Homo sapiens: one gene and its partners. The protein of the gene in region 2 interacts with the protein of the main gene of each other region in a pairwise test. Each region holds a gene or a part of one and is shown on either strand. Other genes may lie near its edges. The genes, in order: DZIP3, UBE2V2, ZNRF1, MOB4 and RNF144A.

The links.
Region 1: the proteins of UBE2V2 (region 2) and DZIP3 interact in a two-hybrid assay, tested with the Homo sapiens proteins (one large-scale study listed by BioGRID and IntAct).
Region 3: the proteins of UBE2V2 (region 2) and ZNRF1 interact in a two-hybrid assay, tested with the Homo sapiens proteins (one large-scale study listed by BioGRID and IntAct).
Region 4: the proteins of UBE2V2 (region 2) and MOB4 interact in a two-hybrid assay, tested with the Homo sapiens proteins (one large-scale study listed by BioGRID and IntAct).
Region 5: the proteins of UBE2V2 (region 2) and RNF144A interact in a two-hybrid assay, tested with the Homo sapiens proteins (one large-scale study listed by BioGRID and IntAct).

The regions. Positions count from the first base shown.
Region 1 is NC_000003.12:108,683,704-108,687,222, reverse strand, and holds part of DZIP3 (E3 ubiquitin-protein ligase DZIP3), read right to left. Parts: intron 3,008-3,519; coding exon 2,882-3,007; intron 796-2,881; coding exon of another isoform or gene 779-795; coding exon 639-778; intron 1-638. UniProt on the Homo sapiens protein: E3 Ubiquitin ligase proteins mediate ubiquitination and subsequent proteasomal degradation of target proteins.
Region 2 is NC_000008.11:48,014,923-48,018,441, forward strand, and holds part of UBE2V2 (ubiquitin-conjugating enzyme E2 variant 2), read left to right. Parts: intron 1-3,519. UniProt on the Homo sapiens protein: Has no ubiquitin ligase activity on its own. The UBE2V2/UBE2N heterodimer catalyzes the synthesis of non-canonical poly-ubiquitin chains that are linked through 'Lys-63'. This type of poly-ubiquitination does not lead to protein degradation by the proteasome.
Region 3 is NC_000016.10:75,005,514-75,009,032, forward strand, and holds part of ZNRF1 (E3 ubiquitin-protein ligase ZNRF1), read left to right. Parts: exon of another isoform or gene 1-1,565; intron 1,566-3,519. UniProt on the Homo sapiens protein: E3 ubiquitin-protein ligase that plays a role in different processes including cell differentiation, receptor recycling or regulation of inflammation. Mediates the ubiquitination of AKT1 and GLUL, thereby playing a role in neuron cells differentiation.
Region 4 is NC_000002.12:197,533,057-197,536,575, forward strand, and holds part of MOB4 (MOB-like protein phocein), read left to right. Parts: intron 1-2,473; coding exon 2,474-2,574; intron 2,575-3,519. Other genes in the region: HSPE1-MOB4 protein, read left to right, coding at 2,474-2,574.
Region 5 is NC_000002.12:7,014,905-7,018,423, reverse strand, and holds part of RNF144A (E3 ubiquitin-protein ligase RNF144A), read right to left. Parts: intron 1-3,519. UniProt on the Homo sapiens protein: E3 ubiquitin-protein ligase which accepts ubiquitin from E2 ubiquitin-conjugating enzymes UBE2L3 and UBE2L6 in the form of a thioester and then directly transfers the ubiquitin to targeted substrates.

The DNA of each region.
Region 1 (3,519 bases), on a different chromosome or scaffold from region 2:
TATAATTTAATAATGAAGTGTGCCAGTATATATATTAAATGTTTGTATTGAAATAAAAATACTTGTGAAAAGTAGAATTATTTCCTTAGATATGAGTTGAGATAAAAGAAACTTCATTTGTGTAGGAATATAATTAAATATCTTTCTACTAAAGGTAGACTGTGAAAAGCACAGTAAAGTTATGATTTCTTGCATTTTTAGTGTGTTCTCCAACAAAGAAACTATAAGGACCCTCAAAATTAAGGAAATTAGGAAATTAAATCCTAAAGATGTTTGGGCTTATATAGCATACAATCAACTTAAAATTCACTTTGGAGATAGGTTAAGATAATAATGGCAGTTAGTGCCATTAAAATTGGGTAAGTTTACATCTAGTTGTACTTTTAGTAAATGAGCATACCTAAATTTAAAGTTATTCTCTCATGATTTAAGACAAGTAACTTTTTAATGAAGAGGTTCACCATTGAACACTGTCTCTTCTTGGTAAATTTCTTTTTCCTTACCAAGGTCAAGGTAAGGAAACATCTGTACTTTTTTTGTGTTTGTTATGTTTCTCTGAAATGTTTCATTGCCACAATTATGGCTATGAAAACTGGAGAATATGATCTGTACCCACCAATAAATAAAAACTAAGGTACCTGGTTTGCTGTGGAAAGGCAGTTTTCAGCCTGTCTGTAATTCTCTCCCAATTCATGATGGAGGGATCACTCCGCAGACCTGCACTGGGAGGCACAGCGTCTCCCACAGGCGCTGGCAGAGCCCAGGCTATGCCAGTCATCTGTAAGAGGCAGAGAGCTATAGCCCAGCAGGTTTAATTATTAAGAAGTGACATTCCTATACCTCAGAAAATGGGTACAATGAAGAAGCGTACTGGCATACACATTCAATTTTTACAGTTTTTCTCTTAATATTTCTAATTGTTTGTAACTATTTTAAACTTATTTTAAAAATAGGACAAAGAAAAGGGTAGAATGAAGAAGAATACTGGCATACACAATCCCTTTTAGGGTTTTTCTCTTAACTAATACAAACAATATTTCTAACTGTTTATAAATATTTAAACTTATTTTTAAAATAGGACATGCTTGCTTCAGTAATTACATACATGTACAGCAAAACATGAAGGCTGTTTACTGCTGTTTCTCTTTTAACAGTGAAAACTGAAAAAACCTTACATCTATAGAGAAATGAATAAATTATGGCACATCTAATCAAGTTTTTAAAAATAGAACTGTATGTCTGGGCATAAGAGATATGCATGAAATATGATTTTTTAAAAAGTCTGTGGCACAGTATTTATGATACGACTTCCTTTTACATTAAAAAATTTTAAATGCATATGTATACACGGAGAAAGGTCTGTAAATTACAATGCGTAAGAAGTGATTATTTCTTAGGGATCAATTGCACAGTAACTTTGTTTTCTAATGTGCTTACATTTCTATATTATTCGCATTTTGTGATTAGCATATATACCTTTATAACGAGAAAGTAAAGTTACATTTTTCAAACAACCAAATAAAGATGGGAATACTACTAGAACTGCTCTGCCCAATGTCTCATCAATGTTGTAGACAAAAGTGGTGCAGAAGTTGTAGTGACATGCAGCCATGAAACCATCACTTTTCTCCATATTTTATGGTAGTTCCTTCTTAAGATTCTAATTAAATAATATAATAACAGAGTATTTTTGGAGTGCTCATCTGATTACTAAGATAATTATGACCACTTGCACCTTTTATGTAAGGCTCTAATGGGTTATTTTCAAATATTAGGTTATTATTCATGAAAAACTAGCAACTACTAACAGTCACTGTAATAATTTGTACAGAGCCTAAGAAGTGAGGGGAAGCAGAATATTTCCCAGAAATCTGAATTTGCTTCTATGTCAAGCTTTACCCCAGGAATCAGAAAGTAATCTTATTAGGAGATTAAGGTATTTTAATGTTTTTAATAAAATTTTATCATAGTTTCTTATAGAATGGTGGGCAAGCAAATTGCAAGAGTTAACACTGTAATATCATGGTAGTAAAAAGATGTGTTACTTATTTAACATATTAAGGACTATATACAGATTTGTTTATAGACAGGTAGCCTCGACAATAATAAGCAGAGTCCACCTGACCATGTATTTCAAAAGGAAACTGTTAGCAATATATGGGGAGCAGAAAAGAAAAGAAACAATTAATTGCACCTAATTATACTTATAGGAAAATCAAGATTAGAGAATTTTCATTAATTACATCTAACATCATTCTTTTGGAAGATTTTCCTTTAATAAAAAACCTTCACCAAGATTACAACTGATAATTCTGGTAATTTCAAATTTATATGTTCCTTCTTCAGGTTTGGATAAAGTTTATCTGGCTATTTGTAGCTGGGAAGATTTATAACTTTACAGTTTATGTTTCAAGGTGATGCTATTTATAGTCTGTTTATAGATACACTTGAAATACTGTCCTACTATGTGTGTGTACGTGTGTGGAAATAAAATTTTTCTTTAGCTTTGTGCCATAATATAGTTTGTTGTGACTTGGCTTCTTTGCTTTTCAATCTTCCCAACAACCATGCCAAAAAAATCTATTAAAAATGTCAATTTACCCTGCATTGTTGCCTATTTCAGAAGCAATACTATAATTTTAAGGATTCTCTAGTATAAAAACATATTTATCTTTGTATCCCAAAACGAAGCTAGTATCAGTTAAATAATATATGTAACACCCTGAGCACAGTGCTTCACAGGAAGTATTCATTCAATTATCACCACCACCCCCATCATTATCATATCAAATGAATGAACAAAATGAAGATACTCATTCAGGAAGCCCACTAGAGTAATAAAAAAACTAATTAACATCTATTCCACCAAGAAAGCTTTTACCAGGGGGGCTCTAGGTTGGCCAGTTGCAGAGACGACTCCCGGGCAAACTGCAGGCATTTGAGGAACAGTAAGTATGGGTCTAAAGAAAGATTCTTTCACAAGAGGTCTTCCTAAGAACTGCTGCATCTAAAATAGAAAATATAAACAATAATAAACAACACCCCCCCCCACATATTTATATATTTATTTAGGCAATCATCTAAATTCATACAGCAATATGGCGGGGGGAACACTCATTTGAACTCAAGATACAAAGCACATTAGAAACAATGTATGTCAGAAAATGAAACATATGAATATTGGAAAAACAAAGGGCAATGAGATATATTGAAAACAGCATTGACAAAGACAGAAAAGAAATAGCTTCTAGTCACATTTCTCTCTACGTAGCTGAATAACCTTGGAAACCAATTTCCTAATCTATAAAATGAGAGGGTTGGATAAGGTAATCATTAAGGTTCCCTCCCAACTGTAATCACATAGAACTATGCAAAGGAGATTCTCAGGAAGTGTTATCTATGTTGGTGGGCAATATTGATACTCAGAAATTTCACAGAACAACCCAAAGTTATCCATAGAAAATATTTTATATTGGAGGTAATACTTGATGAAATTTTGACTTAATGTTTAGCTCCAAG
Region 2 (3,519 bases):
ACCTGTAGTCCTGGCTACTGGGGAGACTGAAGCAGTAGAATGGCATGAACCCGGGAGGCGGAGCTTGCAGTGAGCTGAGATTGTGCCACTGCACTCCAGCCCGAGTGACAGAGCGAGACTCCATCTCCAAAAAAAAAAAAAAAAAAAAATAAGGCTTGTCAAGAGTAGCTTGAGGCTGGGTGCAGTGGCTTCCACCTGTAGTCCCAGCACTTTGGGAGGTCGAGGTGGGTGGATTACTAGAGCCTAGGAGTTCAAGACCAGCCTGGGCAATACAAGAAAATCCCATCTCTACAAAAAATGCAAAAATTAGCTGGGTGTGGTGATGTGCACCTGCAGTCCCAGCTACTTGGGAGGCTGAGGTAGAGTATGGGTTGAGCCTGGGAGGTTGAGGCTGCAGTGAGCTGTGATCGTGTCACTGCACTCCTGCCTGGGCGACAGAGCAAGACACTGTGTCAAAAAAAAAATTAATTTGAACAATGCTTGCTAATGTTTTGAAGTACATTATCTGTACATTGTGGAATGGTTAAATCTAGCTAATTACCAAATACATTATCTCACATAGTTATCATTTTTGTGGTGAGAATACTTAATAGCTACTGAGTATTTTTCAAGAATACAGTATGTTGTTAACTAATCACCATGCTATACAGTAGTGCTCTTAAACTTGTTCCTCCTGACTGTAATTACGTATCCTTTGTCTAACATCTTCCCAATCCCCACCCCCGTAACCCCAACCATCCTAACCTCTGGTAACCACCATCTCCTGTCTACTTCTGTGAGATCAATTTTGACTCCATATATGAGTGAGATAATATGTATTTGTCTTTCTGTGCCTGTGTTATTTCAGTTAACATAATGTTCTCCAGGTTCATCCATGTTGTTGGAAATGAGAGAATTTCCTTCTTTTTTATGATTGGAACAGTGTCCCACTGTATACGTATACCACATGTTCTTTATCCATTTGTCTGTGTGGTTTTTTTTTTTTTTTTTTTTGAGACGGAGTCTCACTCTGTCACCCAGGCTGGAGTGCAGTGGCGCGTTCTCAGCTCACTGCAACCTCCACCTCCTGGGTTCAAGCAATTCTCCTGCCTCAGGCTCCCTAGTAGCTGGGATTACTGGCACCCGCCGCCAAGCCCGGCTAATTTTTGTATTTTAGTAGAGATGGGGTTTCACCATATTGGCCAGGTTGGTCTCAAACTCCTGACCTCAAGCAATCCATCTGCCTCGGCCTCCCAAAGTATGGGGATTACAGGCGTGAGCCACCGCGCTCAGCCTATCCATTTGTTGGTTGATGGATACTTAGGTTGATTCTATATCTTGCATATTTTGAGTAGTGCTGCAATAAAATGGGAGTGCAGGCCTCTCTTTGACATACTGATTTTATTTTCTTTGGCTATATATGCAGTAGCAGGATTACTGGATCATACGGTAGCTCTGTTTTTAGGTTTTTGAGGAACTCCATACTCTTCTTTCTCCATATGGTTGTACTAATTCACATTCCCACCAACAGCATGCTTAGATTATCCTTTATCACCACATACTCACCAACACTTGTTATCTGTCATCTTTTTTTTTTTGAGACGGAGTTTGGCTCTTGTTGCCCAGGCTGGAGTGCAATGGCATGATCTCGGCTCATTGCAACCTCCACCTCCTGGGTTCAAGCAATTCTCCTGCCTCAGCCTCCCGAGTAGCTGGGATTACAGCCACGCACCACCATGCCTGGCTAATTTTGTATTTTTATTAGAGACGGGGTTTCTCCATGTTGGTGAGGCTGCTCTCGAACTCCCAACCTCAGGTGATCTTCCCACCTTGGCCTCCCAAGGTACTGGGATTACAGGCGTGAGCCGCCGTGCCCAGCCTTTTTTTTTTTTTTTTTTTAATTGAGACAGAGTCTCGCTCTGTCGCCTAGGCTGGAGTGCAGTGGCGAGATGTCAGTTGACTGCAACCTCCACCTCCAGGTTCAAGCGATTCTCCTGTCTTAGCCTCCCGAGTAGCTGGGATTACAGGCACCCGCCACCATGCCTGGCTAATTTTCATATTGTTAGTAGAGACATGATTTCACCATGTTGGCCAGGCTAGGCTGGTCTCAAACGCCCGACCTCAGGTGATCCACCTGCCTTGGCCTCCCAAAGTGCTGGGATTACAGGCGTGAGCCACTGCGCTTGGCCTCATCTTTCATCCTTTTGATTATAGCCATTTTAATGGGAGTGAGGTGATACCTCATGTGGGTTTTTTTTTGCATTTCTTTGATGATTAGTGATGTTGAGAATTTTTTTCATATACCTCTTGGCCATTTGTATGTCTTTTGAGAAATGTCTATTCAGATCTTTTACCCATTTTTACATGAGGTTATTTTCTTGGTATTGAATGGAGTTCCTTATATATTTTGGTTATTAACCCCTTATCAGATATATAGTTTACGAGTATAGTGAACCATTCTGTATGTTCTCTCTCTCTTTTTTTTTTTTTTGGTGGAGTTTCGCTCTTGTTGCCCAGGCTGGAGTGCAATGGCACGATCTCAGCTCACTGCAAGCTCTGCCTCCTGGGTTCAAGGGATTCTCCTGCTTCAGCCTCCTAAGTAGCTGGGATTACAGGCATGTGCCACCATGCACTGCTAATTTTGTATTTTTAGTAGAGACGGGATTTCTCCATGTTGGTCAGGCTGGTAATAAACTCCCGACCTCAGGTGGTCTGCCTGCCTCAGCCTCCCAAAGTGCTAGGATTACAGGCGAGAGCCACCGCGCCTGCCAGTTCTCTCTTTATTGTTTCCTTTGCAGTGCAGGAGATTTTTAGTTTTATGTGATCCAAATTGTCTGTTTTTGCTTTTGTTGAGTGTGCTTTTGAGGTCATATCCTCCAAAAATCATTGCCCAGACCAATGCCATTGACTTTTCTTCCTGTTTTCTAGTAGTTTCATAGATTGCCTTTTTTTTTTTTTTTTTCCTGAGACAGTCTCAACCTGTCACCCAGGCTGGAGTGCAGTGGCATAGTCACGGCTCGCTGCAGCCTCAACTTCCCAGGCTCTCACCTCAGCCTCCCGAGTAGCTGGGACTACAGGTGCACGCCACCATACCTGGCTAATGTTTTGTATTTTTAGTAGAGATGGGGTTTCGCCATGTTGGCCAGGCTGGTCTCGAACTCCTGACCTCAGGTGATCCACACGCCTCGGCCTCCCAAAGTGCTGGGATTACAGGTGTGAGCCACCATGCCCAGCTGCACAATGCCCAATTTTGCCACTTCTGTTCAACATAATACTGGAAGTCCTAGAAAGAGCAATAAGACAAGAGAAAGAAATACAAGGCATCTTAATTGGAAAAGAAGTTAAACTGTTCCTGTTTGCAGAAGACATATGATGTCAGTGTTTATTGTTATAAAAACTTCTGTCTTAAAACTGCTTTTGCTGTATTCCATAGGCTTTGTATGCTGTGTGTTTCAGTTTTCATTTTTTTCAATAAACTTCCTAATTTGTTTTTTAATATCTTCATTGACCTATTGGTTGTTCAAGAGCATGTGTTTAACT
Region 3 (3,519 bases), on a different chromosome or scaffold from region 2:
CATATGTGGTATTCACCCCAAGCTTATTGGGCACAGAAATTTGAGTATAGTAGTTACTCCCTATCCAAAGGGGATTCGTTCCAATACCCACAGTGGATGCCTGAAACCGTGGATAGTACCTCACCTGAACCCTATATCTACTATGTCTTTTCCTGTATATACATACCTTTGATAAAGTTTTATTTATAAATTAGGCACAATAAAAGCTCGACAGCAGTAACTAATAATAGAACAATTATAACAATATACTGTGATAAAAGTTATGTGAATGTGTTCTCTCTCTCTCTCTCCCTGTCTCGAAAGTACAGTCATGCATTGCTTAATGACAGGGATACTTTCTGAGAAATGGGTCATTAAGGGATTTTGTCACTGGGCAAACATCATAGGGTGTACATACACGGACCTAGGTGGTATAGCCTGCTACATACCTAGATTATATGTTGCTCCTAGTGCTCCTAGGCTACAAACCTGTGCAACATGTGACTGTATTGAACACTGTTGGCAATTGTAATACAGTTGTAAGTATTTGTGTGTCTAAACATAGAAAAGGTACAGGATATAGTCTTACGGGACCACCATCATGTATGCAGTTGCTTGTTGACCCATGCATGTAGGGTGGTGCGTCATGGTATCTTAATATTTTAGACCTCCATTGACCACGGGTAACTGAAACTATGGAAAGTGAAGCCTTGGACAAGGGGTACTGCTGTATACCCAATTATAAAACTAAGCTTCAATTTTGACAGCTTCAAAATTAGAAAAACTTCATAGGGAAGTGGTGGTAACTTAAATGGGATATTGATTCTGCTCCTACTCATCCTTAGGTAGGGGTGTTTTTAATGACAGTGGATCACTAAGGTTGTGGTTCTAGAATCTTGAAGTTAGCCCAAAACCTAAATCTTAACCTCAGTCAGTTTGTTTGTTTGTTTGTTTGTTTATTGAGACAGAGTCTCACTCTGTCACCCAGGCTGGAGTGCAGTGGCATGATCTGAGCTCACTGCAACGTCCACTTCCCGGGTTCAAGTGATTGGCCTGCCCCAGCCTCCCAAGTAGCTGGGATTACAGGCATGCACCACCACGCCTGACTAGTTTTTGTATTTTTAGTAGAGACAGGGTTTCACCATGTTGGCCAGGCTGGTCTCGAACTCCTGACCTCGGGTGATCCACCTGCCTTGGCCTCCCAGAGTGCTGGCATTACAGGCATGAGCTACCGTGCCTGGCCACCTCAGTCTTTTAGGATGATGGGTGAATATAAATTTCAGTCTGTTTCTTTTCCAAGCTTTCTCATGGCCTAGTCTGAATCAGATGGTTCATAGTAATTACCATGGGTTCAGTCTTGAGTGTGAGAAGGGGATTCTTAGAGACCCAGCAGTTTTCACTTCTGAATCTTAGGTTCTCACTAGAACACAGGTTTATCCTTGAATCCAGCAGTTGGGTTTCTGTCCTTTATGTGCTGTATGGATGAAGGATGAGTTGTGGGTATGAGTGAATAACCTGAAGACCAGCCCTCAAGTGTGAAGTGTGAAGCAAATAACCAAGTTTAATCTTTTTTTTTTTTTTTTTTTAAGACAGGGTCTCGCTTTGTTCAGGCTGGAGTGCAGTGGCACGATCATGGCTCACTGCAGCCTCAGCCTGTAGGGCTCAAGCGATCCTCCTTCCTCAGCCTCCTGAGTAGCTGGGACTACAGGCGGATGCCGCTACGCCTGGCTAATTTTTAATTTTGTGTAGATGGGGTCTCCATTTGTTGCCCAGGCTGGTCTTAAACTCCTGGGCTCAAGCGATCCTCCTGCCTCAGCCTCCTAAAGTGCTGGGATTACAGGTGTCAGCGACGATGCCAGACCCCAAATTTAATCCTAAAGCAGCAGCTGAAATAGTTTCTAGACTGATGAGACTGTTTACCTTGAGACCTCCCTAGAGTCGTTAGTCTTGAACACACAGCTTTCCTCTGTTGGGAGAAAGGAGGAAGGAATAATTCACTGGATCCCTGTGAATTCCAACTTAGGGGAGGCATGATAAGAATTTATAGTGACCTCTTGGATCTGTAACAAGAAAGAGGCAGATAAAAACAAGAGCTCTCCTGATTTCTGTGAATGGTTCAGAAGGGTTCTTAAAGGTGCTCAGTATTCTCTAGGGAGGTAGTTAACGATGCAGATGACTGGACCCCACTCACAGAATTCAGTAGAGCTGGAGACCCAAGAATCTAAGTTTGTAACAAATGAACCTGAAAACAAGAAGACCTTCTACATCTGAAACTAAACTCCACCAAGCATTTAGTTTTTCTCTCCCCAAACAGAGAAATAAACTTTGAATCCTTTTTTGGTGTATTCATTAGCTTTCTTTTTATTTGTTTTTTCTTCTTATTTTTCTTTAGAGAAAGGTTTTTCTTCTGTTGCCCGGGCTGGAGTGCAATAGCAAGATCACGCTCACTGCAGCCTGGAACTCCTGGTCTCAAGCAATTCTCAAGCCTTAGCCTCTGGAGTATCTGGGACTACAGATGCTATGCTACCATGACCAGATAATTTTTTTACTTTTTTTTTCTTTTTTCGGTAGAGAAGGGGTCTCACCATGTTGCCCAGGCTGGTCTTGAACTCCTGGCCTCAAGTGAGCCTTCCACCTCAGCTTCCCAAAATACTGGGATTATAAGTGTGAAGCCACTGTGCCTGGCCTTTATTTTCAGTATTTCTAGTCAGATATTTGCTAAGCAATCTCTACAGCTCGCAGAAGGTAGGTTCAACCAGGAACAACATTGTTGGCTATTTGATGGTTTTCTTTTACATGGGACTAAGCATTATTGCCTACATATAGGGCCAAGCCAATCTGCCTTGGTCTGAGAATTGAAGTTGCTCTGAACAGAAGGTAATGGTGTCAGTGTCGCCTTTCCTTCTGCACTTGTCTTCCTCCTGACTTTTCTTCTTTGGCTCTGGTGCTACAGAAGGGCTTCCTGAGTTACCCTCTTTCCTACATCTTCAGCCAGGCAGCTAGACAAGTCAAGAGCTTAGGATGAATCTAGGCTTTAAAGAGGTTGGAAGACCTGTTTTTCCTTTTCTCTGACTGACCCAAAAGTATAAGACTTTTTTTTCTTTGTGTGTGATGATCTGTTGAACAAAAACGTTCATTTATTCCATTGATAGCCTCTGGTATACCAGGACCTATGGTAGGTGCTGAGAATATATATATTTATTATAGAGCAATTAACTTATTCTTTCCAAGAATCTTTGCTTCCTCACTCCTTAAGAGTCTGAATATTTTAGCTTCTGGGAGATTTTACCTTTTCATCAGCTCCTCTGTTGAATAAACAAATAAATGTAGGTGTTTGTCCATAAGGCTGCTGCAAGGATATACTTCTCTTCACTCATTTTTTTCCAAAGCCCTATTTCTGGGTTGGGGCAGGTGATCTTTTCTTTGTGATTCCAGCTAAGTACCTACCAAGAAATTCCTCGTATGTCTCAGTATGAGGGGTCCTCTGTCCTCTCAGTGAGAATATCAAAAGAAAAACTGATTTTCAGACTCTTCATGTGC
Region 4 (3,519 bases), on a different chromosome or scaffold from region 2:
CCACTACACTCCAGCCTGGGCGACAGAGTGAGACTCTATCTCAAAAACAAAAAAAAATTTCTATCCATAGAAGGTGTAGTGGGAACAGGAAAGACAAAAATGAATAGACAGATTGCTAATATATACAAATTACAAATGTGGCAGGAAATTGGATGGAGTTCTGTGAGGATTCGAATAATCAGGGAGTGCTTGAGTGTGTTGGGGGAACGAGAGATTTGGACAGAATTGTGATGTGGAATTTGAGGTGGCCTTTGGAGAAGGTATACAATTTAGCTGTATCTCCTCAAGGAGAGAGAGAATCAAAACTTTGAAACATTAGGATGAGATAAAAAAAATCAGGGAGAGTGGTTTCAATAGTAATTAAAGAGTCATTAAAAAGTGTTTGAGGCTGGGTACGGTGGCTCATGCCTGTAATCCCAGCACTTCGGGAGGCCGAGGCGGGTGGATCAGCTGAGGTCAGGAGTTTGAGACCAGCCTTACTAACATGGCGAAACCCTGTCTCTACAAAAAATACAAAAATTAGCCGGGCGTGATGGCAGGTGCTTGTATTCCCAGCTACTCGGGAGGCTGAGGCAGGAGAATCGCTTGAACCCGGCAGGCGGAGGTTGCAGTGAGCCAAGACTGAGCCATTGCACTCCAGCCTGGGCGACAGGAGCAAAACTCCTCAAAAAAAAAAAAAAAAAAAAAAAAGTATTTGATCCCTTTCCCTGTCATCATGGTGTGTGCGTGTGACTCAGTTCTTTGCCATGCCTTCCCACAAGACTTTAAGACTTTTAGAATCAAGTGATTCCTGGCCAAGAAACAAAAGCAAAATCGTCCCATTCCCCAGTGGATTCAGATGAAAACTGAGTAATAAAATCAGGTACAACTCTAAGAGGAGACATTGGAAAAGAACCAAGCTGGGTCTAGAAGGAATTTTACATGAGATGGCACACATACTTAATATTGCATCAAGGTCACTATCATGTCACCATATCAAGCTGAAAATGTCACCATCATCTGGACAGTTGTACATGCTGTATTGGAACAATGGTTTTTCTTTTGGTTTCTATGCTCTGCAGTAGGCTGGTTCAGTACTAAATATGTGAGACCTTTTGTTTGGAAAAAAAAGTTTTTGAGTAAGCAAGTGATATTCAAGAAAGATTGTCTGAAGTAGGCAAAATTGATTGGCTCAAGAAGGCCTTATAGTTAGTAAGTTTTTGTAACCACCCTTTTAATCTGTTCTAACGTATTTAGACTTCAGAATATCAAAAAGATTGCATAAAGCATTACAGAGATCTGAAATTTAAATTTTTATGTTATTACATTTTAAAAATTGAAAGTGACCCTCCCTTGCCTTTTTTTTTAAACTTAGTTTTTTCTGTTAGTCATTTAAAACAACTTTTATTGGATCTAATGAACATACCATACAAATCCCTATACAGTTAGAGTGATTATATTCACAGGGTTGCACAGCCATCACTACAGTCTAATTTTAAAGCTTTTTTGTTGTTGTTTTGTTTTTGAGATGGAGTCTCACTGTGTTGCCCAGGCTGGAGTGCAGTGGCACGATCTTGGTTCACTGCAACCTCCGCCTCCCGGGTCCAAGCGATTCTCTTGCCTCAGCCTCCAGAGTAGCTGGGACTACAGGTGTGTGCCACCACGCCTGGCTAATTTTTTTGTATTTTTAGTAGAGATTGGGTTTCACTATATTAGCCAGGATGGTCTCGATTTTCTGACCTTGTGATCTGCCCACCTCGGCCTCCCAAAGTGCTGGGATTACAGGCATGAGCCCCGACGCCCGGCCTTTTAGAACATATTTATCCTTCCTGAAAGGAAACCTCACCCTCATTAGCAGCCATCTTCAGTCTCTTCTGCCTTCCTCTCTGCCCTCAAGCCCTACACCAGTACAAATCTATTTCCTGTCTCAATAGATTTTCTTACTCTAGACACTTCATATAAACCAAATCACAATATGTACCATAGTTATATTTACATTGCCTATGGTGAAATCCTGTATCTACAAAATATGGAAAAGTTAGCCCGGCGTGATGGCGTGTGCCTGTAGTCCCAGCTCCTCAGGAGGCTGAGGTGGGAGGATTGCTTGAGCCCAGGAGGTGGATATTGCAGTGATCTGAGATTGTGCCACTGTACTCCAGCCTGGGTGATGCAGTGAGACCCTGTTTCAAAAAAAAAAAAAAAAAAAAGAAATTATGGTTTGCAATTTTGATCCAAGTTCCAGTCCTGACAAATACAATATCTGCATTTATGTAGTAGATTCTATCCAAATGAAGTTGAATTGAAGGATAAATAAGTAAGGGTAACCTACTTTTTTTCTTAGTTACTGATTATGATTCTATACTTGGTTTCCTATTTAGTGTATAACCCAAGTTGAACCACAAGAGCAGTTATGTATTAACAAATTATATGTACTTAACATAAGATTTACCAGGTGATATAATTTAATTAACCATAAGAACTTCTTTGTTTTTAGTATATTCAACAGAACATAAGAGCAGATTGCTCCAATATTGACAAAATTCTTGAACCACCTGAAGGCCAAGATGAAGGTGTGTGGAAGTATGAACATTTAAGGTAGGACCTTACATCAAAATACTAATAGTACCTCTCACAAAACTAGCTTTCATATTAATGATAATTATGAATTGTAAAATTTACTATGTAACTGCAGACTAAGAAGCCAAATTTTAAAGCTTTGGCATTTTCAGTGTCACAAGGTTCTCAGCTTTCTTCACTGGTTGTTTCCAGGTCAAATTATGCTGCAGAGTCACTCATTTTGAAAGGTGGTTTATTTCAGAGTTGATAATTTGGACCTGCCTCTGCACCTCTCTTCTTTTCTTTTCTTTTTTTTTTTTTTTTTTGAGATGGGGTCTCACTCTCTTGCCCACGTTGGAGTGCAGTGGTGTAATCACTGCTTACTGTGCCTCTACCTCTTAGGCTCAAGTGATCCTCCCACTTCAGCTTCCAGAGTAGCTGGGACTACAGGTGTGTGCCAGCATGCCTCACTAATTTTTTAATTTTTTGTAGAGACAGGATCTGATTGTGTTGCCCAGGCTAGTCTCAAACTCCTGGATTCAAGCAATTTTCCTACCTTGTCCTCCCAAAGTATTGAGCCACCCTTTCTACATTTATTCATTTGGGCCTTATTATCCCCGCCTTTTTTTTGAAACAGGGTCTTGATCTGTTGCCTAGGCTGGAATGCAGTGGTGCAATCTTGGCGCATTGCAGCCTCTGTCTCCCATGCTGAAGCAATCCTCCCACCTCAGCCTCCTGAGTAGCTGGGACTACTAGTGCATGCCTCTAAGCCTGGCTAGTTTTTTGTATTTTTTGTAGAGACAAGGTTTCACCATGTTGCCTAGGCTGGTCTCAAACTCCGGGGCTTAAGCAATCCACCCACCTTGGCCTCCCACAGTGCTGGGATTACCACCATGCCAGCCTGGGTTTTATTCTTATTTCATGATTTTCCTTAATTGTATCTCTTAACCGCTAATATAGTATTTCCGTTTCCCCATTTTTGCA
Region 5 (3,519 bases), on a different chromosome or scaffold from region 2:
CTCCGACAACTCTCTGCCTGCCCTCTGTGAGTGCTGTGGGGTGAGCCCAGCTTTGTCCCTGATGAGATAGGAGGCCCATGTCTGCCCAGCCCTGCGGGAGGGTGCAAGTGCTGTGTGCACTAAACAACACGCTGCGCGGGAAGAGAAATCCTCACCCGCTCTTTGCTCTCCTCCCGATATAGCTCTGAGGCTAGATCCAGAAGGGCAGCGCTGCCTGCTAGGGACCCTTCCGTCTCACTGCTGTCCCCACCTCTCCTGTGCAGTAGGAGCTTCTGACATCAGCAAGGAGCAGACATCCCAAAGCTGGGTCTCGGTCTCTTCATGCACGTGATTTGTCATGCACCACCTCCTGTCCACCCTCCTGGCTCAACAGTGGGGGATGCTATTAAGCATCCCCATCACAAAAGGCCCCCCAGGATAGCACACAGGGGAGACCTGGCTAAGGTTTCCATGGGAACGATTTAAATCTTATTAGTTTTGTCCTCATATAGCTGTGACACGGCACTGCCTGTCCTCACATGGAGAGATTCCCTATCGAAAAGGTCAGGGACAAACGGCCGCTCTGACTGCAGACTGCAAATGTCCTTCCTGTGCTGCCGGGGCATGTCACACCCTGTGAACATGGCCCCAGGCTGAGGCGTAGATGTCTATTAACATTCTGCATTATCCTCCCCAATCTACACACGTGTGTGTATGAGACATATTTTCAAACAAAGCAAATGATATGCTTTTTGGCACACTAGAGGAAACTAATGTTAACTCTTCTCTCCCAGAGGCGTATTCATGGCAGATTAATGAAGCAGGTCTCTTAAGAACTCCCTGCTTAAAAATGCATAAAACTTTTTAAAAAGGTGGCTTTCCTTTTAAAACAGTTTCCTTTCAGAAGTACATGACAGAGAACGATGCACCCAGCATCCCCTCTCATCCCTGCACTTACTACCCTGCCCGGCGGGCTGGTGCCTGGTGCAGGGCTGGGATGGTGGGTTTGATCCTGCTGTGAGATGGCAACATTTTCAGGAGTCGGCTCTAGTCAGGCCTGATTACAGGTGGATAACCCATCGTATTATTTAATCTCTCTGAGCTTTACTTTAAAAAAAAAAAACAAAGAACAAAAAAAAAAACAATACACGGTTGACATCTGACATCAGCATTCACTTGGCCAGGCACTGGGCTGGCATGGGACGAAGGCATGAGGACCCACAGTCCTGTCTCTGGGAGGGCTGAGCCTCCAGATAGAGGCAGGTGCACAGCAACGCCCTTAGCACAGCACCGCTGGGTCTCAGAGGGCCACGGGCGTCGAGTGTAGCATGAGAGAGGGGTCCACGCAGCAAGAGGCATCCACACCCCCTCGCTCAAGAATCTGTCCCTACCCAGACTCTGGAGTGAGCCAGTTGTGAGGAGGTGTTCAGAATGAAAACTCAGCTTCCTGGCCCCCTTCCCTGGCTTCCTGCTTGCCCCAGAGCTCCAGAAGGGGAAGACATTGACGCTAAAACCAAGGCTGTTATATCAGAGGAGACATTCTAAGACTAAGTGCAGACAGTGTGCGCAACATGACCTAACCATAGAACTTTCTGGTAACTCAATGTTTTCAGAAAATCATTGAACTGTCTCAGTTTTCTTCCAGGGCGTCCTCTACTTGACTAGATTTTAGAGCCATAGAGACAGTCAAAATTTGCTTTCTGATCTTGTCTCCAAACTCTTTCAAGGTGCTGGCTATAATCCATAACTATATTTTAGCTCTGACATTCTAACGTTTTATCTAGACAGGTCTTTTATAGTATGAAGTCTGAATACTTAAAAAAAAAAAAACTTTGAACATAATGTTAGTAAAATGCTTTAAAGGGAGAGGCTTGAGAGATTTTTTTTTTTTAACAGAAGCCAAGTTGGCTTCATGTTTATGCAAAAGGAAAAAAGATTTTCTGACTAAGCCAAAGTACTAAAGAAATAACAGTTAAAATTATTAGGTTGAAAAATGTACCCAGCTGCATTTTTAAATTAAATTCAATGTCATAGAAAGTTCATATTCTTGTAACGCAAACAACAGCCAGTTTCTGTCAAGATTCTCTCTGGAAAATATTCTCAGAAGAGCCTGAAAGTCTCAGAAGTCTAAATTAATCAATTTTATTGCCCTACGTACTGACTTTTGTACCAAATGGCATTATATTAAAGCTATAAACTGCCCCAAAGCAAATGATATACGACACTTTAATAAACACACTCTTGAAAACAAATGTCAATGCCATGAAAAATGCTGTTTGAGTTTTTTTTTAAGTGGGCTACATATTTTTTTCTTTTTCTTTCTTTTTTTTTTTTTTTTTTAGAGACGGGGTCTCAATATGTTGCCCAGGCTGGACTTGAACTCCTGAGTAGTTGAGACTATAGGTACATGCCACTGGGCCCAGCTATCTCTAGCATTTCTTTTAGAAAGCAAAAATATACAAACAACAGGTCTCTGCATGCAGCTAAACTGGGAGTCTCTGGATATTGTCCTCTGGTCTCCTCTGCCGTCCACTCCCCATCCGGCCATGTTTTCATGTAAGCCCACCCTCCAGGGCTGTGTCTCAGTGGTGAGACCCTGCTCAGGTCAAGAACCCGAGAATCAGTGCAGGGAGAGGGAGAGCAGATGCCAGCAATCCAAACTCAGAATCCGCCTGCAAGGTCCACACAATGATGTTCTGCATATGGAGTGTCGCCTGCACACATCTGTCACTCTGCTCTTTACCAGACAAGCCTGGGGCCCAGAATAGATATGAAAACAAAGCCAAAGAGAGTCCACAGACTCTTTACAGTTTCATTGTATGACCCCGGAGTATTTCAGAGAGCAGAGCTAAAGACCTCTCCTGGACATTCCACATGGCTTAATGCTTTGCAATATTATCCTGAGAATCATGTTCTGCTCTGTGTGCACCTGCCACACTGCTCTCCCAGAGGACCCCTGGGTCTGCATCAGGCCTGCTCCAGCCAGAAGGACTATTCAGGGCCCAGTGGAGGGCTCACGATGAAGGGTCATGGGATGTGGTCCCAAAGCACCCACTATATTTAGAAATCAGGGCAAGTCAGTTAGCCTCTCTGGGGATCCGTTTATTAGATAATGACAAATTAGCTTTGCAGAGTTGTTGTGACACTTACTGGGATAAGGGACTTGATTATTCATTCACCACCTACTATCTAGGTCTGTGTCCAGTGGTGAGTAAGCGCAGACAGGACACCTACCATCGGACTGTTGTTAGGACGGGGGTTACTGTAATTTCTGCTATGCCTACCCTCACGACTTCCCTCCATGACTCTGCATCTTTTAACTTCTGGGCCAGTCCAAGAGTTTAGCCCTCAAACTCAGCCTTAAGCTGGCTGAAATATAATACCTCAAGAGAGCCATCAACTTTAAGCCTCCCCCAGGAGCCTCAATCCTTATAAACAAATTGTGTTCCATAAATTCTTCCTGCTACCAAATAGATCACTAGACAAGGTCTTCAAACTGTGAGCTGTTCAGAGAATCCAGAATGTCAGTTTAATTTCAGA